Homo sapiens: one gene and its partners. The protein of the gene in region 6 purifies or fractionates together with the protein of the main gene of each other region. This does not show direct contact. Each region holds a gene or a part of one and is shown on either strand. Other genes may lie near its edges. The genes, in order: PPP2CB, IPO7, DDI2, IPO8, SART3 and ZNF846.

Evidence for each region.
Region 1: the proteins of ZNF846 (region 6) and PPP2CB purify together in Homo sapiens (co-immunoprecipitation; one large-scale study listed by IntAct). This does not show direct contact.
Region 2: the proteins of ZNF846 (region 6) and IPO7 purify together in Homo sapiens (co-immunoprecipitation; one large-scale study listed by IntAct). This does not show direct contact.
Region 3: the proteins of ZNF846 (region 6) and DDI2 purify together in Homo sapiens (co-immunoprecipitation; one large-scale study listed by IntAct). This does not show direct contact.
Region 4: the proteins of ZNF846 (region 6) and IPO8 purify together in Homo sapiens (co-immunoprecipitation; one large-scale study listed by IntAct). This does not show direct contact.
Region 5: the proteins of ZNF846 (region 6) and SART3 purify together in Homo sapiens (co-immunoprecipitation; one large-scale study listed by IntAct). This does not show direct contact.

The regions. Positions count from the first base shown.
Region 1 is NC_000008.11:30,784,998-30,788,818, forward strand, and holds the end of PPP2CB (serine/threonine-protein phosphatase 2A catalytic subunit beta isoform), read right to left. Parts: intron 1,311-3,821; coding exon 1,238-1,310; 3' UTR 619-1,237; downstream 1-618.
Region 2 is NC_000011.10:9,436,609-9,440,226, reverse strand, and holds part of IPO7 (importin-7), read right to left. Parts: intron 2,474-3,618; coding exon 2,253-2,473; intron 2,148-2,252; coding exon 1,942-2,147; intron 1-1,941. UniProt on the Homo sapiens protein: Functions in nuclear protein import, either by acting as autonomous nuclear transport receptor or as an adapter-like protein in association with the importin-beta subunit KPNB1.
Region 3 is NC_000001.11:15,651,913-15,655,530, reverse strand, and holds part of DDI2 (protein DDI1 homolog 2), read right to left. Parts: intron 1-3,618. UniProt on the Homo sapiens protein: Aspartic protease that mediates the cleavage of NFE2L1/NRF1 at 'Leu-104', thereby promoting release of NFE2L1/NRF1 from the endoplasmic reticulum membrane.
Region 4 is NC_000012.12:30,682,271-30,685,888, forward strand, and holds part of IPO8 (importin-8), read right to left. Parts: exon of another isoform or gene 3,530-3,618; intron 2,188-3,529; coding exon 2,031-2,187; intron 1-2,030. UniProt on the Homo sapiens protein: Involved in nuclear protein import, either by acting as autonomous nuclear transport receptor or as an adapter-like protein in association with the importin-beta subunit KPNB1.
Region 5 is NC_000012.12:108,530,131-108,533,748, forward strand, and holds part of SART3 (spliceosome associated factor 3, U4/U6 recycling protein), read right to left. Parts: intron 2,205-3,618; coding exon 2,092-2,204; intron 1,151-2,091; coding exon 1,074-1,150; intron 181-1,073; coding exon 12-180; intron 1-11. UniProt on the Homo sapiens protein: U6 snRNP-binding protein that functions as a recycling factor of the splicing machinery. Promotes the initial reassembly of U4 and U6 snRNPs following their ejection from the spliceosome during its maturation.
Region 6 is NC_000019.10:9,765,924-9,769,996, forward strand, and holds the start of ZNF846 (zinc finger protein 846), read right to left. Parts: upstream 2,816-4,073; 5' UTR 2,366-2,815; intron 1-2,365. UniProt on the Homo sapiens protein: May be involved in transcriptional regulation.

The DNA of each region.
Region 1 (3,821 bases), on a different chromosome or scaffold from region 6:
TTAAAAATTTTTTTAAAAAAAATACAGAGATGGAGTCTCACTGTGTTGCCCAGGCAGGTCTCAACCTCCTGAGCTCAAGCAATCCTCTTTTCTCAGCCTCCCAAAGCAATGGGATTACAGGCATGAGCCACCATGCCCAGCCTATTTTTTATTTTTTAGAGATGACATCTTGCTATGTTGCCCAGGCTGCCCTCAAGCTCTTGGGTTCAAGCCATCCTCCACCTCAGCCTCCTGAGTAGCTGGGACTATAGCCATGTCCCATTGCCCTGCTTTGAAAGATTTTATGTCGTTTCAAGATAGCAGGCCAGGTGTGATGGCACACATCTATAATCTCAAGAATTTGGCAGGGCCACTTGAGGCCAGGAGTTCAAGACCAGCCTGGGCAACATAACAAGATCCCGTCTCTACAAAATATTTTACAAATTAGCTGGGTGTGGTGGTATGTTGAGTGTAGTCCCAGCTACTCAGGAGGCTGAGGGAGGAGAATGGCTTGGGCTCAGGAGTTCAAGGTTGAAGTGAGCTATGACTGTGCCACTGCACTCCAGCCCAGATGACAGAGCAAGACCTGGTCTAGAAAAAATAAAGTTTTCATTTAATGCACAACACAATAAATGAATGTTTTTGTTTAAAATGAAAAGTTTATTTGCTGAGTACACCAAATAGGATGCAAGCACTGTCATGACAAATATACAGAAATATGCAGATCAACATAAAACAGTAATTTAGTTTAAATGAAGGGAAATCTCTTTAAATGTTATGACAACATACTCCCAAGAAGAACCTTTTCTTCAGTTAAGTTAATTATACATTTCAATAAAATAAAGGATAATGGATTAGTGGAAGTTAGCTTGTGAATTTTTCTTAAAAATAAAACTCCAACTCTATTAATCCATGCCAGTTAAACACTATAACTAAAATTTCCAAATAAGCGCAAAAGGAGATGAAGCAGTTAGTTACCTTTTTTGCTTGAACAGTCCAAAGGAAAATGGTTACTATAAATACAGCAGGCAAACTGTTAGACTGACCTAGAACATAGTGTACTAAATTTCAGTCTCAAATTGTGCTAAATGCTCATCATTAGTATGGCACATTTGGTCCATGATGTGGTTTAATGCCAAGACAGATCCCAATTTGTTACAGAAACACATAGATTACTGTTGCTTTTTGTTTTTAAATACATATATTTTAAAAAGCCAGGTATACTTCCACATACAAAGGCAGGTTTCCCAGGAGAAATTTATAGGAAGTAGTCTGGGGTGCGCCGTGTAACATGAGGCTCACCACGACGAGGCGCTGGGTCAAATTGAAGGCTGTAAATGGCAAAAAAGGAAGCAAATAAAGGATCTGACTTTGCAAAGAAAACAAATGAATAAAGAACAAGACACTGTAGTAGAAACAGCAGTCCTGCTTTCCCACCATGACTACATCACTTACGGCTGGAATGGCCATGGGCAAATCACTGCAGATGCTCCCATTCCAACTAACTGCTTCATAGGGCTATGGTGAAAATTTAAGAAGACAGAATGTCTGGTTTGGTGCCTGGCATAACAATTTCTAAATGTTATTATTATTTAAAAGCTTAAATAATTAAAGATTAAATAATATCAAGTTTAAATAATTAAACAATAATTGTTTAATATTATTTAATAATAATAATAATATCACTTTTTTTTTTTTTTTTTTTGAGGCAGAGTCTTGCTCTGTCGCCCAGGCTGGAGTGCACTGGCACGATCTCGGCTTATTGCAAGCTCCGCCTCCTGGGTTCATACCATTCTCCTGCCTCAGCCTCCTGAGTAGCTGGGACTACAGGAACCCATTACCATGCCCGGCTAATTTTCTTATTTTTTTTTAGTAGAGACGGGGTTTCACCGTGTTAGCCAGGATGGTCTCATCTCCTGACCTCATGATCCACCCGCTTCGGCCTCCCAAAGTGCTGGGATTACAGGCGTGAGCCACCGCGCCAGGCCTAATATCACTATTTTCTTGAGTGTTTCTGGCTAGTGGATTTTTCCAATTATTTTTGTGCCTCTATTGAGATGATCATGTGTTTTTTAATCCCTTAATATTAATATGGTTTATTATATTGATTTTCATGTTTTGAACCAACCTAGCATTCCTGGGATAAATCCCACTTGCTCATGGTGTATAATCTTTTTACATATTGCTAGATCCAGGTTGCTGGTACGTATGTTGGAAAATTTTATATCTGTATTCGTAACAAATGCTGGTCTGTTTTTGCCTTTGTCTACTTTTGGTATCAAGGATAATAGTGCAGGTGTGACAGAATGAATGCAGTAGTCCTCCTCTTCTGTTTTTTGGAAGTGTTTGTGAAGGATTGGCATTAACTCGTTTTTATTTTTGAGACAGGGTCTCACTCTGTTGCCCAAGCTGGAGTGCAGTGGTGTGATCATGGCTCACTGTAGCCTCAACCTCCCTGGGCTCAGGTGATCCTCCCACTTCAGCTTCCTGAGTAGCTGAGACTATAGGCTGAGCCACCACACCAGGTTAATTTTTGTATTCTTTGTAGATACAGGGTTTTACCATGTTACCCAGGCTGATCTTGAATCCTGGGCTCAATCTGCCTGCCTTGGCTTCCCAAAGTGCTAGGATTACTGGTTAGAGCCACCGCACCTGGCCAATTCCTTTCTTTAAACATTTGGTGGACTTCATCAATGAAGCCAATTGGGCTTGGCCTTTTATTTGTGGGGAGTTTTAACTTTTTCACTCATTTATTTATATTCTTTTAAATTAAATAGGGACAAGGTCCTGCTATGTTGTCCAGGCTGGTCTCAAACTCCTAGTCTCAAGCAATCCTCTCAGCTTGGCCTCCCAAAGCTGGGATTTATAGGTGTGAGCCACCATGCTGGCTCAATATTTTCACATTTGAAAGGTCATTCAGATTTCATATTTCTTGAGTCAGTTTCAGTAGTTTCTTTTTAGGAATTAGTACGTTTTATCAAAGTTACTGAATTTGCTGGCATATAGTTATTTATTGTATTCCCTTATAATCCTTTTTATTTCAGTAAGGTCTCTAGTGATTTGGTAATGTGAGTCTTTACTCCTTTTTTTCTTGGCCAGTCTAGTTAAGGCTTTTCAAAGCATCAACTTTGGGTTTTGTTGATTTTTCTGTAATGATTTTCTACTGTTTGTTTATTTCTACTCTAAACCTCGTTTCATAAGCTTACATCAGGTTTAGTTTACTCTGCTTTTTCTAGGTCCTCAAGTATAAAGATAGGTTACTGATTTCAAATCTTCTTGTTTTTTTTTTTGTTTTTTTCTTTCTGAGACAGGGTCTTTGCTCTGTTGCCTAGGCTGTAGTGTAGTGCTGTGATCATAGCTCATTGCAGCCTTGATCAACTGGGCTCAAGTGATCCTCCATCTCAGCCTCCCATACAGCTGAGACTACAGGTGCTTGGCACCATACCTGGCTAATTTTTAAATTTTTTTGTAGAGACGGGGTCTCCCTATGTTGCCCAGGCTGGCCTCAAGTGATCCTCCTACTTTGGCTTCCCAAAGTGTTGGGATTACTTGTGTGAGCCACAGCATCCAGCCATGTTAATGATTTCTAATTTCATTTCCTTGTGTTTGGAGAATATCCTTTTAAGAATCTAATCTTCTTAAATTGCCTGAGGCATGTTTTACAGTCTAGCATATGACTATGTTTCATGTTTACTTGAGAGGAAAGTATTCTGCTGTTGTTGGGTGTTGTTTTACAGACATGAGGTATACAGTCAGTTTACAGTGTTGCTCAAGTCTTCTCCTGCCTTCATCTCCTGCCTAGTTGTTCTATCCAAGAGAAACAGTTTCTGTTGCTTAGTTTT
Region 2 (3,618 bases), on a different chromosome or scaffold from region 6:
AAAAGAACTGCGCAGTATGAACACACTACCGTTACACCCACCAAACCTTTTGTAAGATTTTTTTTAAAAGGCTGGCTAAGTTAGTAAATGATAAAAGACAAAAATAGCAATAGCTATCTTATGTTGAAACCCTTATAATAATTTCTCTTAATATTTTATCAATTTATACACTGATAGTGTACAGTCTTATAGATAAAATGTATTTATCAACATTTAATTAACATAATGTTATAGTGCAAGTATGCTTAGGTTTTAGAATTAATAGATGATAGGATGGATGTCTCCAATAAATTTAGTCAACATTAAGACCATAAATCTTTAGAAGCTTAAAAATAAAATGAAAACCCCATAATTCGCCGGGCGCGGTGGCTCACGCCTGTAATCCCAACACTTTAGGAGGCCAAGGCAGGCAGATCATGAGGTCAGGAGATTGAGACCACCCTGGCCAACACGGTGAAACCCCATCTCTACTAAAAATACAAAAATTAGCCGGTGTGGTGGCACACGCCTGTAATCCCAGCTACTTGGGAGGCTGAGGCAGGAGAATCGCTTGAACCCGGGAGTCGGAGGTTGCAGTGAGCCAAGATTGCCATTGCACTCCAGCTTGGCGACAGAACGAGATTCCGTCTCAACAACAACAACAAAAAAAAACAAACAAAAAAAACCCCCATAAATCTTGTAATAGTAACTATAATGATATGTGTACCTTTGTTAATACTGTTAATTCAGTGCCATCTGCCAAGCACTATTTAAGCGTCAAGGATTCCCTCATGTAATCCCCACAACTTTTTTTAAAGAAATGGGGTTTCACGGCTCAGTGCAGTGGCTCACGCCTGTAATCCCAGCACTTTGGGAGGCCCAGGAGGGTGGATCATCTGAGGTCAGGAGTTCCAGACCAGCCTGGCCAACATGGTGAAATCCTGTCTCTACTAAAAATACAAAAATAAGCTGGGCATGGTGGCACGTGCCTATAATCCCAGCTATCTGGGGGGCTGAGGCAGGAGAATTGCTTGAACCCGGGAGGCAGATGTTGCAGTGAGCCAAGATCGCGCTGTTGCACTCCAGCCTGGGCAACAGGAGCAAAACTCCGTCTCAAAGGAAAAAAAGCCAAAAAACAAAAAACTGGGGTTTCACTATGTTACCCAGGCTGGAATCAAACTCCTGGGCTCAAGCGAATCTGATACCTCAGACTTCCAAGTAGCTGGGACTATAGGCTCATGCCACCATATAAAAAAGGGAACTATAATCTCTCGCTCTTAAGTGGACTCAGCACTTCGTGTCAACTCTATTATTATATACATAATTATTTGGCTTTGTAATACTTTCCCACAGTCGGATAGAAAACTTTTGAAGAACTGCATGACATCTCATTCATCTTTGTATCTACAGTGCTGAGAATGTGTAAAATAAACAAATCTTTGTTGGTTGCATACTATAATGGTTTGAACTGTTCTACATGTTGGTAATACAGCTGAAGTTCCTGATTACATCACTCTAGTGAGAAGAAAGGAAGTCTTTTCTGTGAATGAAAGCATTTGGGTATGATCCCACATTTATTTGGGAGAAGGGCTAGTGATATATATATATATTTTTTTTTAATCTGAGATGGAGTCTCGTTCTGTTACCCAGGCTGGAGTGCAGTGATGCAATCTTGGCTCACTGCAACCTCCGCCTCATGGGTTCAAGCGATTCTCCTGCCTCAGCCTCCCAAGTAGCTGGGACTACAAGTGCCCACCACTACACCCAGCTAATTTTTGTATTTTTAGTAGAGGTGGGGTTTCACCATACTGGCCAGGCTGGTCTCGAACTCCTGACCGTGTGATCCACCTGCCTCAGCCTCCCAAAGTGCTGGGATTACAGGCCTGAGCCACTGCGCCCGGCCCAGTGCGGTAATATTTCTAAGTAGATAAGTTTTGTCTTCTTCCATTGAAAATCCCTTACCGGTTTCATCATCATCTTCAGCTTCATCATCATCATCACTGTCATTCTCATGTTCTGCATGGCAGGCATATGCTCTTTTCAATCCGTTAAATAAAAGGATAAAAGCCGGCAAAATCTGTCCAGAAACCTGATTTAAAACTTGGGGTATCTGTTCCATATCAATAAGAGCACAGAGTCCGAGAACACACATCTTTCTGTCATGAAGCCTAAAAAAAAAAAAAAAAAAAAAAAAAAAAAAAACTGTTTTCTTTTCTTAAATAAGCAGAGTTCCTCCCAAAGCAAATGTAGTAAAATTGCAATACATCACTTACCCCAAGAAACAGTCAACATCATTAAGCCACTGTGTAATAAAATGATTTGTAACTGGTTCAACATTATTAGGGAAGCGAAGATTTTCTAAGGTATTGAGTAGTAGGTGTGGATTATAATACAAAGCTGCAATTGCAACTTGCAGACACATAGTTCGAAGTTCACTTGTCTTAACCTCTCTTGTCAGTCTTTCTAAGGCTGCTTCCACGAATAAGGGAATGCACTACAAAAAAAGATAGCAAGATATTCTAAGACTATAATTAATAGCATGCAAACATTCTAAAAATATTAACTTCTTTGTTGCCTCAATTAACCCTATTGTAGCATTAGATGACCAATATTTACTGCTGAGGCACTGCACTGGGAAATCTAATTTTAGAGAAAGTCTAGTAGTCTTCATGGAGCTATTAAAAGCTCACGACGGGCCGGGAGTGGTGGCTCACGCCTGTAATCCCAGCACTTTGGGAGGCTGAGGCAGGCGGATCACGAGGTCAGGAGATCAAGACCATCCTGGCTAACACAGTGAAACCCCGTCTCTACTAAAAATACAAAAAATTAGCCAGGCGTGGTGGCGGGTGCCTGTAGTCCCAGCTACTTGGGAGGCTGAGGAAGGAGAATGGCGTGAACCTGGGAGGCAGAGGCAGTGAGCTGAGATCGCGCCACTGCACTCCAGCCTGAGCGACAGAGCGAGACTCTGTCTCAAAAAAATATATGAAATAAATAAAAAATAAATAAAAGCTCACGATGATATCAATCATGGCTTCACAAGTTCCTATTAAAATTGACCGTGGGCCGGGTGACGTGGCTCATGCCTGCGATCCCAGCACTTTTGGGAGTCTGAGGTGGGCAGAACACTTGAGGTCAGGAGTTTGAGACCAGCCTGGCCAAAATGGCGAAACTCCTTCTCTACTAAAAATATAAAAAATTAGCCAGGTGTGGTGGCAGGCACCTATAATCCCATCTACTCAGGAGGCAGAGGCAGAGAACTGCTTGCACCTGGGAGGCAGAGGTTGCAGTGAGCTGAGATTGCGCGACTGCACTCCAGCCTAGGCGACAGGGCGAGACAGCGTCTCAAAAAAAAAAAAAAAAAAAAAAAAAAAAAAAAAAATATATATATATATATATATATATATAAAATCAGGCGGTTGTGGTGGTGTATACCTGTAATCCCAGCTACTTGGGAGGCTGAGGCAGGAGAACTGCTTGAATCTGGTTGCAGTCAGCAGAGAATGTGCCACTGCACTCCAGTCTGGGCAACAGAGCAAGACTCTCACTCAAAAAAAACAAAAAACAAAAAACAAACAAAACAAAACAAACAAACAAAAAAACTGACCATGGATATTTAATTACTAAAGCTATCCAAAAAAT
Region 3 (3,618 bases), on a different chromosome or scaffold from region 6:
TCCACCCTTCCTCAGCCTCCCAAAGTGTTGGGATTACAGGCGTGAGTCACTGCGCCCAGCCGTGGTTTTTTTTTTTAGAAACAAGTGTTTTGCCATGCTGCCCAGGCTGGTCTCAAATCCATAGGTTCAAGTGATCTCCCCACCTCAGCCTCCCAAAGTGTTGGGACCACAGGCATGAGCCACCATGCTTGGCCAGAAAGAAGTTGTTAACAAAATACTTTCACCTACTATGTCCAGAGTATTTATTCGGATGATATTAGGAAGTCGATGTTCTAAATAAAAAGGACCTGATATGTAGAATTATTTCATTACTTAAACATTACAAAAATTAGCACAAGCTATACTACCAGCAACAAAAGGTTATTTAGGTAAAAAGCCATTTCTTTTTAATTCTTTGAAGTTGGTACATCCCCTTCACTAAGCCTGGAAACATATGTGTATCTGTTTTAATCTTCCAAACTTTTACTAAAATAAGGTAATTACCAAAAAAGGATAACTGTTATTAGTAGGTTAGAAAACACTGCTATTATCAGCTAATGTTTCTTAAATAATGGCACCAAGACTGTGGAGGTTAAAAGGAAAAAAAAAAAAAAGACATTTCATAAAATGATAATATATCCTCATATTAACACACAGCATCACGACTAAGATGATAAATTACACCCCAAATGCAAAACCTTGTAAGGAGCTATGTCAAATTCATTCAAGCTTACCTTGCAGGTAAGATTAAAACTATTAAGTTAGTCTCTGTCTGGTTGTTCAAAATTCCTCCCTTCCTACAAAATACTTAAGTTACAACCAAAACTGTAGTTAATATAAAAACTTGAGCCAAAAAGTGATGGGAGTCAATTCTGTTGTTTTTTTTTTTTTTTTGGACACAGGATCTCACTCTGTCACCCAGGCTGGATTGCAGTGGCAGCGATGATGGCTCACAGCAGCCTTGACCTCCTGGGCTTAGGTGATCCTCCCATCTCAGCCTCTCAAACAGCTGAGACCATAGGCGCGCCACCATGGCTGGCTAATTTTTTTTTTAAATTTCTTGTAGAAACAAAGACTCACTATGTTGCCCAGGCTGGTTTCAAATTCCCAGGCTCAAGTGGTCGTCCTGCCTTGGCCTACCAAAGTACTGGGATCACAGGCATAAGCCACCACGCCCTGACTCAAACTGTACTTTATACATAAAACTAAGCCAAAAGGTGATGGAGTTGATTCTGAACAAAGTCAACCTGGAAAACTCCATCTGCCACCCACACCCATTCTAAAGCTCAATGACAGACATCTGAATGTTCTCCAGTAAAACAGTGGCAAAAGCTGCCTGGCTGTTTTTAAAACTCTTACCACTTTCGTCTTTAGGATAAAGCTATTCCCTGAACTTGTAACTCTTAATAATTTACTGTACTAGAAAAAGCAATGTGTGATACTAGTCATACTGATGAATAATGCCAGCACAAGACTGTAAAATAACCCAAACTCAAAAGTAAATTCTATTCAGCTTCTAGAAAATACATCCCAGAGTCACCGTTCTATAATAAATGGGGGATTTCAGCAAAACTGTTACCCCATTTTACCTAGAAAACTTAGCTCCATCATTACATTTAAACAAGCTAAATAACTGAGACTTAGAAAAAAGTATTAGGTAGCATGATTTCAATATATACAGTGCTAATATGGCCTGATGACAATACTGTAATCTCACACCATAACACTGCATTTTCAGTAACGTTCAATTATGCTGGTCAGGCATGGTGTCTCGTTCCTATAATCCTGTCATTTTGAGAGGCTGAGGCGGGTGGATTGCTTGAGCCCAGGAGTTCAAGACCAGCCTGGGCAACATGGCAAAACCTCATCTTTACAAAAAATACAGAAATTAGCTGGACATGGTAGCAGGCACCTGTAGTCATAGCTAGTCAGGAAGGGGAGATGGGAGGATCAGTCTGGGTGACAGAGTAAGACCTTGTCTCAAAAAAAAATTTTTTTTTTAATTAAGTAAATAAAAATTTATACTTCTTTTTGTTGGTTCTTCTGTCTTCGGTGAAGTTAGGGCTGCTCACACACAGTAGCAATGATACTTTTCAAAATAAACCAGGCCTAAGAGGCATGGTGGCTCATGCCTGTAATACTTTGGGAGGCGGAGGCGAGAGGATCTGCTTGAGCCTGTGAGACTGAGACTGAGGCTGCAGTGAGCCATGGCTGCGCCACTGCACTCCAGCATGGGCAGCAGAGCAAGACTCTGTCTATATAAATAAAATAAAATAAAATAAATAAAATAAAATAAAACAGTCCTAAGAAAAGGAAAGAAATAGGGAAATACTGTTGGACTCAAAAGTTAACATCTGCTTACTGTCAAAATTTTCTTTAGGAAAATCACAAAAACAAAAACATCCAAAAAAAACTTCCTAAAAAAATTTAGGAAGCTTCTAAAATGTGTCTAAGCAAAATAACCCCAATCTATCTTAAACACAGCAATGGACTGAGCTGTTCTTAATCTGTTGAAATACTAAAAAACAGAATGTTTCTCTTTTTTATGAGATAGTGTCTCACTCTGTTGCCCAGGCTAGAGTGCAGTGGTGCCATCTTGACTCACTGCAACCTCCGCCTCCCAAGTTCAAGCAATTCTCCTGCCTCAGCCTCCCAAGTAACTGGGGTTACGGGGGGTGTGCCACTGCACCCTGCTAATTTTTTTTTAATTTTTATTATTATTTTTTTTTGAGATGGAGTCTCGCTCTCTTACCCAGGCTGGAGTGCAGTGGTGCGATCTCAGCTCACTGCAAGCTCCGCCCCCTGGGTTTATGTCATTCTCCTGCCTCAGCCTCCTGAGTAGCTGGGAATACAGGCGCCTACCACTACGCCCGGCTAATTTTTTGTATATTTAGTAGAGACGGGGTTTCACCGTGTTAGCCAGGATGGTCTCCATCTCCTGACCTCGTGATCCACCTGCCTCAGCCTCCCAAAGTGCTGGGATTACAGGCGTGAGCCACCGCGCCTGGCCAATTTTTATATTTTTAGTAGAGATGGGGTTTCACCATGACCAGGCTGGTCTCAAACTCCTGACCTCAGGTGATCCGCCCCCCCCCCCCCCCCTCCGGAGCCTCCCAAAGTGCTGGGATTAACAGGCGTGAGCCACCACGCCGGGCCAGAATACAGACTTTTTCATTATTGTATTAAGAGATGGGGTTTGGATATGGTAGCTCACACCTGTAATCCCAGCACTTCGGGAGGCCAAGGCAGGAGGACTGCTTGAGCCCAGGAGTTGGAGATAGGCCTGGACAACACAGCAAGACCCTATCTCTGCTAAAAATAAAAAATTAGCCAGGTGTAGTCCCAGCTACTCAGGAGGCTGAGGTGAGAGGACTGCTTGAGCCCAGGAAGTCAAGGGTGCAGTGAACTACAATCATGTCACACTGCACACTGCACTCCAACCTGGGTGACAGAGTGAGACAATGTCTCCAAAAAAAAAAAAAAAAAAAAAAAAGGAAGATCAAAGAAGGAGGTTAAGAAGACAAATAATGAACACATCTACTACTGGACCATGAGACTAATTAAAAACTGGAAAGGTTCCTACCCCTTCTGAAGCCCACACTTCCCGGGCTTACCCATCAATAACAAGTATTGAAGAGT
Region 4 (3,618 bases), on a different chromosome or scaffold from region 6:
TCTATGGGCCAAAACCTTGAACTCATCCATTATCAATTAAAACCCAACATCGTATGTTGAATCTATCCAAAGCAGTCTGAGATACTAATTTTTGTACCCCAAGTATAAGAAAGAAACATGTATTATTAGCGAGGCAATTCCTGAAGAGGAGAGCTAAGAGCTATTTCCAAAGAAATAAATGAAAAAGGCAACAGAAGAGACATAAAACAGAAAAAGAAAATATTCCTTTAATAAAACCACAAAGTTAAATGCTAAAATAAGTTATCTGATAACATAGATAAGTAATCATTTCCTCAATGAGATTTCAACTTTAACTGGAACTGAAAAGAAAATAGGGGGAAAAATTTCTTTTCTATAAACTATCAATTCAATGTTATCACCAAATATGACCTTACATGACATTTTCAAATGGTTAGAAAACAAACTTGGCAAAATTAGGATTCCACAGGGCAACTAAAAAAAAAATAAAGCATTTTCAGTTGAACAACCAGTAACTCAGATTCACTTAAACTGGTAAAATTAAACAAAATGATGCCTTTTCTTCACGTTATCAAATCTATTTGAAAAATCCCTTTGTAATACTCTTAAACTTTGAGAATAGGTGGAAGAAATTTCAACAATGATTATAATTAAGCCTTAAGGACATAAAAGGAGCAAAGCCACAGAGAACCGTCCCGTAATAAAGATAAAAGATCTCCTTTAGTGCCAGTAGTAGCTGCTCCTTTAAACAATAAATGTCATATTTGTAAAAAATAAAACTGAAGCTTTTCATTTTTTAAAATTTCATCTTCAGGTTGATTCTCCCAGTCCTTTCTCATTCCAAGCAAAGGATGGTTATGAAAGGCCATCCTTCATGCATTACTGTGTAGAACCACTCGAAGATTAAGGGAGATCTGAAAATTTAAGATTTTGAAAATAAATGGATACATGATGGTACCACAGGGGTATCAGTCCCATGACTGGCATTTGGGCAACCAATAAGAATAATAGTGATTTTTTCTTTTTAACCAGTACACCTATTTTCTCCTCTTAACAAATTAATTGCTCTAAGAGTTCAATGTTTGTTCTCCTTCCTGTTACCCGTCGTACTTCCTTCCTTTTCCACTGCTTATGTCATGATGGCTATTAGATACTAAGGGCTAACGTTATATTCAACCTCTTGATATTAAAAAATTTCATTCCTCTACCTCTGTTTTCACCTATTTGTCCCTCCCATTTTCAAAAGATACCTAATTACTATCTTGTATGTTGAAAAGAATTTGTTTCTCCTATTTTAAGATTGCAAAATTTTTATGACTTTACAGCTGCTCTGTCCAATAGAGCAGCTGCTAGTTAAATATGCACACTTTAAATGAATCAAAAGTAAATAGAATTAAAAATTCAGTTCCTCAGTTACAACTAGCAACATTTCAAGTGCTCAACAGTCATTGATGCCTTGTGGCTAATATTAGATAGCACTGACACAGAACACTGTCACTGCAGAAAGTTCTGAGGGACACTACTGCTCTACAGCATCTAATCTATGACTGTAAAAAACTGGAGACAGTTCTTCTAGTTTATACCTACTCTATCCTGTCTTCTCTGAAGGAAAACATGCTCAATTCATAAATGTGAATAAAAATACAGGGAAAGATTAAGACAGGTAGTAGGTAAAAATTCCCAGAATCAGTCTCTCTGTATCAAAGAAAAGAAAAGCAGGTAGTAAAAAAACTCAAGAGATCATTACTAAGAATAAAGGTCATTTAAGTAGCAAGACTTACACAATTGTTTTGGTTAAGTATCATTTTTTTTAAATCTTACCTCTTTTTGTGGCAACATACGACAACAAAATCTTTTCCAAAATATCTTGAGGCAAAGAATTACAAATGCAAAGACCACTAAGTAAAATAATATTCTTTGAGTGTCCCTCTTTATTACTTTACCTCTTTAGAAAATGAAACATGAGGCCAAGGATTAGATCCAACAGCACCCACCCTCAGATCTAACCATTTCATGCTTTCTAGTAATCACAAATATATAGCACCACATACCTCACTAAATCTGGAGACCGAATTATTCCTTCCACAATGTTATCACGTATTTGCTGGCGATCGTTTTCGTGAATGTTGAATGGAAATATTGCTTCTCCTGGTGGAGGTTCTCGATCTGGCCAGTATTGTGTCACCATGTTCTTCAGGTAAATGGCAGCTGAGTTTGAGAAAAAATGCTAATGTAGCAGTACCAAAAAGGATGGCTTTAATTCAGCCTTACAGAGCATGAAAGTCCAAACCCTTCAATGTTAAACATGAAACCCAGCAAAAATGGATACTCTTACAGGTATAAACAGCCAAATCAGGAAGGGAAAGTGGATAAGAATTTAAAGGTTTCACTTCAGCTAGTCTAAGCAGAAAACATTTCATTAAGTCAAGACCCAGAGCTTACAGGACAGGAAAATTATCTAGAAATAATGCATAGTAAACATACTTTGAGATCATAAAATCATACTTTTCGCAATGCCTAATTCTGAGGTGACAACAGGTAAAGTTCTACTTTCCTTCATGAAGATGGCTTTTTTTGTTTTTTGTTTTCCCACTGGCTACTGTCAAACACTAGCATTTTGGGGTATCTCTTCTTTTTATAGTATTGGTAATTTTCATCCAACCTTTTTGAAATATGTACTACTTGTAAATATAATAGGGAAATGAACATCAGCCATCAAAAATTTTTGGAAAAAAGCTCAGAAAATTTTTATATGTTCACATCTATCAAAATACATAATCTGATTTTGTTCTGTTCTTTTTAATCGTCTTCAACCTTTAACAAAAGGCTTCTGAAAGAAACAGGCTGACATATTGCTACAGCATTTTAAGAAAGAATGTGAAGCTTTTCTTTTCTTTTTTTTTTTTTTGAGACGGAATCTTTCTCTGTCATCCAGGCTAGAGTGCAGTGGCAAGATCTTGGCTCACTGCAACCTCTGTCTCCCGGGTTCAAACGATTATCCTGCCTCAGCCTCCCAAATACCTGGGATTACAGGCATGTGCCACCACACCCAGCTAATTTTTGTATTTTTAGTTAGACAAGATTTCACCATGTTGGCCAGGTTGGTCTCGAACACCTGACCTCAGGTGATCTGCCTGCCTCGGCCTCCCAAAGTGCTAGGATTACAGGTGTGAGCCACTGCACCTGGCCAGAATGTAAAGCTTTCTAACCATCCCAGTTGAACAGTGAATGTAAGTAAATACTTATAATGTTGTGTGTGTGTGTGTGTGTGTGTGTGTGTAAAGAATACAGATACGTGATTTGCAAAGCAGCATAACTTTCTTCCCTTAAGCTTCTCTTCTTTCCCCACCCAACTCTTTCTTCACCCAACTTTTAACATATAACTAAATTCATGACCCGGAGCAGTGACTCACACCTGTAATCCCAGCACTTTGGGAGGCCGAGGCGGGCGGATCACCTGAGGTCAGGAGTTCGAGACCACCCTGGCCAACATGGTGAAACCCCGTCTCTACTAAAAATACCAAAATTAGCCAAGCATGGTGGCAGGTACCTGTAATTCCAGCAAATTCCTTGAACCCAGGAGGCGGAGGTTGCAGTGAGCTGAGATCATGCCACAGCACTGCAGCCAGGGCAACAGAG
Region 5 (3,618 bases), on a different chromosome or scaffold from region 6:
GAGCTCCTTACCTTCTTCATCATCGCCCCACTCTTTCTCATCATCCTCATCTGCTCCGCGCTTCTCTGGGCCTCTGATCTTTTTCTTCTTTTTTAACGCTTTCTTCTCAGCCCGAGCTCTTTTCCGTTGTTCAGCCTTTTCTTCTTCTTGCTGCACAAGGGCTGCTTCCTTCTCTGCAGCCTAGAAAAGTGGGAAGATGATGCATCGCTGGATGTGGCAATTACATTCACTGTACTGATTTGTCATGAAAGGGGAGAAGGAGTGGAAATTCATTACTAATGAAAAGCAGAGATCAGGAGAAAAACGTGGACAGGCTCACGGCTGTTCCACACCAGGGCTCATTCAGGTTCGTTGGAATTCTGGATCTGATGTCTCTGTTACATTAGCAATTTCCTCACCCTAATCATTACTCACCAAAAGGAAGGCAAAAAAATCCATAAAACTGGCCGGGCGCGGTGGCTCACGCCTGTAATCCCAGCACTTTGGGAGGCCGAGATGGGTGGATCACGAGGTCAGGAGATCGAGACCATCCTAGCTAACATGGTGAAACCCCATCTCTACTAAAAAAATACAAAAAATTAGCTAGGTGTGGTAGCGGGCACCTGTAGTCCCAGCTACTCGAGAAGCTGAGGCAGAAGAATGGCGTGAACCCGGGAGGCAGAGCTTGCAGTGAGCCGAGATCATGCCACTGCACTCCAGCCTGGGCAACAGAGCGAGACTCCGTCTCAAAAAAAAAAAAATCCATAAAACTGAAGCCCTAAATAAGTTGGGGTGTTCATGTTCCACTCACTAGGCTAAGTGAGGCTCTTCTTTATTCTTTTTCATCAATTCTCGTAAATTTTAGAGCCAAAATTCCCTCACTAAATGAAACAAGTACTTAATATTGGGGCTGATGTTTTAGAACAATGTAAAAATGACACAAGACAGGTTTAAGCATTGATCTAAATATTTTATAATTAATACTGAGTAAAAGACACTTAGGAAAATGTAAAACATCTTGACAAGAAACATCCATACCAAACTGAGCCAAAATAGCTACCAGAGGTGCCAAAGACTTCAAACATTGTCATTACCTTCATTCTCTGCTCATTGACACGAGCTAATCGGGTTTCAGTTTTCTGAACAGCTATATCCCAATCTTCTAAAGAACCTTGAAAGAAAGAGAAGCAAAACTTTCACTCTTTAGGATTTTGAAGGATACAATCACATAAATTTTTCTTAATTTCTCTGTACCTCCAGAAGAGATCTCTCCCATCAAACAATAAGAAAATGTAATCCCTGTAGGCTTGAAGTTCAGAATTCAAATAGTCCTTCTAAGTGGGTTTAAAATGTCCCTCTCCTTTCAGGAGAGACTTGAAAACCAGAATATGATCTATTAAGGGCTCTAAATGGCAAAGAATATGAAAACGAACGTTCTAATGCAAAAGTACATTTATATTAAGACTGAAGAATTTTAAGAGCTACTCAAATGTTGAGGCATTTATTTCTTATTTTTTGGTGGTCTTTGCAAGCCAGTTCTGAGGGGTCCATACCCAAAATCCAGACCAATACCCACAGATAAGTTCACATTATTTTTCTATTGGTTCTAGCTAACACTGAAGGCTCTGAAATTTAACAAGGGATGCAAAGGACACATTGAGCCATTTGCCTCTCCAAGCTCCTTTGTTGGATAGATGTTGTACTAGAGCACAGTGACTCTCAAAGGAGGGATCCTGCCCATCAAGAGACATTTGGCAATGTTAAGAGACATTTCTGGTTGTCATGTTTGGTTGTGGTGGTGAAGCTGCTACTGGCATTTCAGGGCTAGAAGCCAGGGATGCCCCTAAACATTGTATAACGCACAGTCCCCCCCACAGAGAATTAGAACCCTGTGCTACAGTGACATCACAGAGTCCTCCTTGTAGCTGCAGAATTTGAGAAGAGCTGCAGGAGGACTCATTTTCAGGACACTTGTGACAGTCTAATCATAGGGCACCACCTAAGGTGGCAGCATAAACACAGTCTGTCCCCAGACTGTAACCAGATGCTCCTACTTGAGACCAAACAGCAAATGGGTTAGGCTCCAAGCCAGAAGAGAGCTGGGGGTCCCACCTTCTGTCCTCTCCATGGTGAGTAACACTTCGCAGACGTGCTCTGGGTAGTCACTGGTGCACTGGACGGCCCGGTGCAGAGCCTTCCGGCAGTGCTGGGTGTCACCATGAGCTCTAAGGCAGAAAACAAAAAGTTGCTGCCACCAGGACACAAAGTGGAAGGCACTCGAAGGGAGAGGCCGTCTTCTCCCAGGTAGAAACTCACTCTTCAGTAACTCTAGCTTCTGAGAAGACCTTAGCTTTCAGATCTATCCATGATGCTTTCTCCTTCCAGAGTCTCTACAGTCACCTACGAAGTATTTCCCTGAAGCACTCTCTCCCTCAGCCATGTAGGGGCTACTGGAAAGTGTACCTGATATTGTGATCTGCAACCAGCATTCTGCCTTTACAGCATTCACATGTGCGGCACATGGCGGGGGAGTCCAACAGCTCTCTGTAACCTGATACAGTCCCCAGGGAAATTTTACTATGGCGTCCTACTGACAGGAGAGTTATGAATCCAGGGTAGTGTCAAATTTCATACCCAGAGTCAGATCTTTTTTTTTTTTTTGAAAGGGAGTCTCGCTCTTGTCACCCAGGTGGGAGTGCAATAGCACGATCTCGGCTCACTCCAACCTCTGTCTCCCAGGTTCAGGCAATTCTCCTGCTTCAGCCTCCTGAGTAGCTGGGATTACAGGTGCCCACCACTACACCCAGCTAATTTTTGTATTTCTAATAGAGACAGGTTTTCACCAGGTTGGCAAGGCTGGTCGCAAACAGATCCTTTTTGTACACTGCTAATCACAACAGCTACACAATTCTGCTAATCATAACTGTTATGCAACAGTGTATTCATATTTGTTTTTAAAACATTTTAAATATACATAATTATATATACATATTATGATGCTCAGAATAAATTCAGAGCACTGGTTCTCAAAGTAAGATCCACGTACCCCTGAGGATCTCCCAGAGCCTCTCAGGGGCCCTGCAAAGTCAAAACTCCTTTTATAATAATACCAAGACATTACTGGACTTTTTCACTGTGTTGACATCTTCAAGACAGTGCACAAGTAATGGTGGCCCTTAGCACAAATCAAGGCAGTAGAAATCTTTTTAATGCACTGTGTGATGAAATACTAAGTACACTTAAAGCCCTTCTGCATACTGAAGTACAATGGTTATTGCCAAAAAAAAAAAAAAAAGCATATTACTGTTTGAGTTGCAAGCTAATCAAGTCATTTTTTTCAAGGACACCATTTTTACTTGAAAGGAAACTTGAGTGACAAACCACGGTCAGTTACTCAGACCTGGGTATTTGGCAGACATTTTTGAAAATTAACAAAGTGAGGCTGCCACTCTGGGGAAAACCACTGACATTATTTGTTGCATGTGATAGAATTCAAGCTTTCAAGTGAAAATTAGAATTTTGGAAAACTTGTATCTGCCACCACAAGTCTGACAGCTTCCTACTTAAAATACTTTTCAACTAAGATCAATACAGATATGAACAAATACGATTTTTTAATACTATAGGATGAAATATGTC
Region 6 (4,073 bases):
AAATAAATATACATATATATATATACACATATATGAAAACAAAGAATAAAAGAAAAAATACTCTAGTTGACTTTGCCTAGCAACTATCAGACAGTAAGAATACTTTTGTGTCTGGCTTCTTTCAGTCAGCATTATGCTGGTGAGGTGCACCCAAGTTGTTGTGTTCATCCACCTGTGATTTGGTTCATATCTTTGCTGAAGAATATGCCACAGAGGCTGGGCATGGTGGCTCACGCCTGTAATCCCGGCACTTTGGGAGGCCGAGGTGGGCAGATCGCTTGAGGTCAGCAGTTCAAGATCAGCCTGGTCAACATGGTGAAACCCCATCTCTACTAAAAATACAAAGAAAAATGGGTGGCTCACACCTGTAATCCCAGCTACTCGGGAGGCTAAGGCAAGAGAATCACTTGAACCAGGAAGACAGAAATTACAGTGAGCCAAGATTGCGCCACTGCACTCCAGCCTGGTGACAGAGCAAGACTCTGTCACAAAAAAAAAAAAAAAAAGCCACAGAAATATGCCACAATTCACCCATTCTGTGGATCCACATTTGGGTTGTTCCTAATTTAGGCTATTTCAAATAATGTGATAAATAACTTTTACATTTAGCCTGGCACACGTATGCATGTTGCATCACCAAGTCCATATTTAGTTGTCACTGTTTTAAAATGTAGCTGGGCATGGTGGCTCACGCCTGTAATCCCAGCACTTTGGGAGGCCGAGGTGAGTGGATCACAAGGTCAAGAGATGGAGACCATCCTGGCCAACATGGTGAAACCCATCCTGGCCAACATGGTGAAACCCCATCTCTACTAAAAATACAAAAATTAGCTGGGCATGGTGGCATGCACCTGTAGTTCCAGCTACTCGGGAGGCCAAGGCAGGAGAAGCACTTGAACCCGGGAGGTGGAGGTTGCAGTGAGCCGAGATCATGCCACTGCACTCCAGCCTGGCAACAGAGCAAGACTCTGTCTCAAAAAAAAAAAAAAAAAAGTGTTCTCTTCAGCAATGCATGCACATCTTAAAGAAGACTTGATATTGTCACTGACTTTAGTTATGCTTTTATTTATTTATTTTTTTTTTTGTAGAGATGGGGTCTCACTATGTTGTCCCAGCTTGTCTCAAACTCATAGCTTCAGTGGCTCCTCCTGCTTCTGCTTCCCAAAGTGCTGGGATTACAGGGGTGAGCCACTGTGCCCGGCCTAGTTTTATTTATTTATTTATTTATTTAGACGGTGTTTTGCTCTTGTTGCCCAGGCTGTAGTGCATTGCCACGATCTCAGCTCACCACAACCTCTGCCTCCCGGGTTCAAGCGATTCTCCTGCCTCAGCCTCCCGAGTAGCTAAGATTACAGGCATGCCCCACCACACCTGGCTAATTTTGTATTTTTAGTAGAGACAGGGTTTCTCCATGTTGGTCGGGCTGGTCTGGAACTCCCAACCTCAGGTGAACCGCCCACCTCGGCCTCCCAAAGTGCCAGGATTACAGGTGTTTAAGTTACCGCACCCGGCCAATACACATTGATCTACACAAGAGATGCAAAGAAACAGAAAACATGCAAAATATTAACAAATGATCAGTCTACAACAAGGATATATAATAGGTGTTCAATATTCTGGCCTTTCACATTTTCTTTGGTTTAGAATATTCAATCTACAGATAGCCTGGGCAACAAACCAAGACCCTGTCTTTAAAACGTAAATAAATAAATAAAAATATATGAGGGGGAAGGCCAGGCGCGGTGGCTTATACCTGTAATTCCAGCACTTTGGGAGTCCGAGGAGGGTGGATCACGAGGTCAGGAGTTCGAGACCAGCCCAACCAACATGGTGAAACCCCGTCTCTACTAAAAATGCAAAATTAGCCGGGCGTGGTGGCACATGCCTGTAATCCCAGTTACTCAGCATGCTGAGGCAGGAGAATCGCTTGGACCGGGAGACAGAGTTTACAGTGAGCCTATATCACGCCATTGCACTCCAGCCTGGGCAATAAGAGCGAAACTCCGTCTCAAAATATGTATATATACGAGAGGAAAAACGCTGAATCAAAACATGTCTCTTTCACAGTTAATACAACTGTAATTTCTGATACTGGTATAATGAAGGCGGCATCCTACTTCCTGGAAGCCCCTCCGTTTTGAAGCTCTTTGGGAGGTACTGACCTAGGAAGTTCAGCTGCTTTTGATCTCAAAAACACAGCGGAGTATTGCTACTTTGCTTTATAACTGTGGCAATATTTGCTTTTATTTCTATAAACCTACAACTCCTGCACACTTGACAAAGCATTTAACTGCTGAGCAATTTCGCAAACTTCAATAAGCGATGCCCTCCCACAGCCAGATCATCTCCTCCGTCCAGGGCTCACCGGAACGCACTGCAATCGCCCTGTCGGTGACAAGAGGACGCTGGGGCCCTTTTCCACAACAGCTGAGATGCTTTTCCTTCTGGAGAAAGGACACAAAGGTTGACTGGCTGCTTTTAAACAGAGGGGCACGGTGGTTGGAGAAAAAAACACGTCTCCACCGGGGACCCTGGGCCAGGCCCAGACTGATGCGGGCGCAGCGGGAAGAGGCGCTCAGAAGAGAAGGCGGGAACCCCCCGCCTCGGGGTCCTGGCGGGGAGGAGGCGCCGCTTCTCCGGAGCAGCAGCGGGAGGCCGGCGCGTCTCAGACCTAGCAGAAGTCCGGAGCGTCACCCTCCGACCCTCGCTCCGCCTCCCGCTAGGCCCTCCTGCCCCGCCCTGCCTAGGTTGAGCATGAGCGCTGGCTGAGGTGAAAACCCAGCTAGGAAGCTGCTGGAGAGCGGGGAATACGTATAGCTGCGCGCCGGCTGGCACTTCCGCTTCCGGTTGCGCACGGCATTAAGTGTAGGGGCCGAGCCCCAAGAGCTTTGGAATGAGGATGATGTGAAGCTGAGAGAAGAGCTGGGGCCACCTCTTCGACACGCGTACAGAAAAGTCCCGTTTTCTCGCATCCCAGGTGGACCAGGATCCAGATCAATCTGTCGATATTGGGAACGACGCCGGACCAGGAAACCCAGCGCCAAGGGCCGGGTTGGAGGCGGGGACTGGCGCAGCGGGCGGGGCACGCGTGGAGGCGTCACCTAAGGCTTCGATTGCAGACAGCGGGATGCTCATCGAGTGCTTTTCTTTTCTTTTTTAATTTCTCTTTTTAGTTTTTTGAGATAAGGCTCCGGTCTGTCGCCTAGGCTGGAGTGCAGTGGCTCGGTCATAGATCATTGCAGCCTGGAATTCCTGCGCTGAAGCTATCCTCCCGCCTCGGCCTCCGGAGTAGCTTGGACCACAGTTGGGCCCATCACGCCCAGCTAAGTTATCTTTTTCTAGACACTTGGGTCTCACTGTGTTCCCTAGGCTGGTCTCGAACTCCTGAGCCTAAAGGATCCTCCCCCCTCGGCCTCCCAAGCAGCTTGGACCACAGGTGTGTGCCACCACGCCTGGCTAATTTATTTTTATTTTATTTTTATTTTTTTGTAGAGACAGGGTCTCTCTTTGTTACCCAGGCTGATCTGGAACTCCTGGGCTCCAGTGATCCTTCCACCTTGGCCTCCCAAAGTGCTGGGATTATAGGCGTGAGCCACCACCCTAGGGAAATTCTTTTCTGCAGGATTTTCTCCTTGTTTCTTCAACCCTCTGCAGGGATATAAACATATTTACAAAGATAATCCCGCTGTAGTCCTAGCTACTGCGGGAGAATCGCTTGAGCCCAGGAGTTCGAGACCAGCGACACCCTGTTTGAAAGATTAACCTGATGGGGCTGGGGGCAGTGGCTCACGCCTGTAATCCCAGCACTTTGGGAAGCCGAGGCGGGTGGAACACGTGAGTTCAGGAGTTCGAGACCAGCCTGGCCAACATGCCGAAACCCCATCTCTACTAAAAATATTTTTTAAAAAATAGCCGGGTGTGGTGGTGGGCGCCTGTAATCCCAGCTACTCGAGAGGCTGAGGCAGGAGAATTGCTTGAACCTAGGAGACTGAGGTTGCAGTGAGCTGATACGATGCCACAGTACTCCAGCCTGGGCGACAGAGTGAGACTCCGTCTCAAAAAAAAAAAAAAAA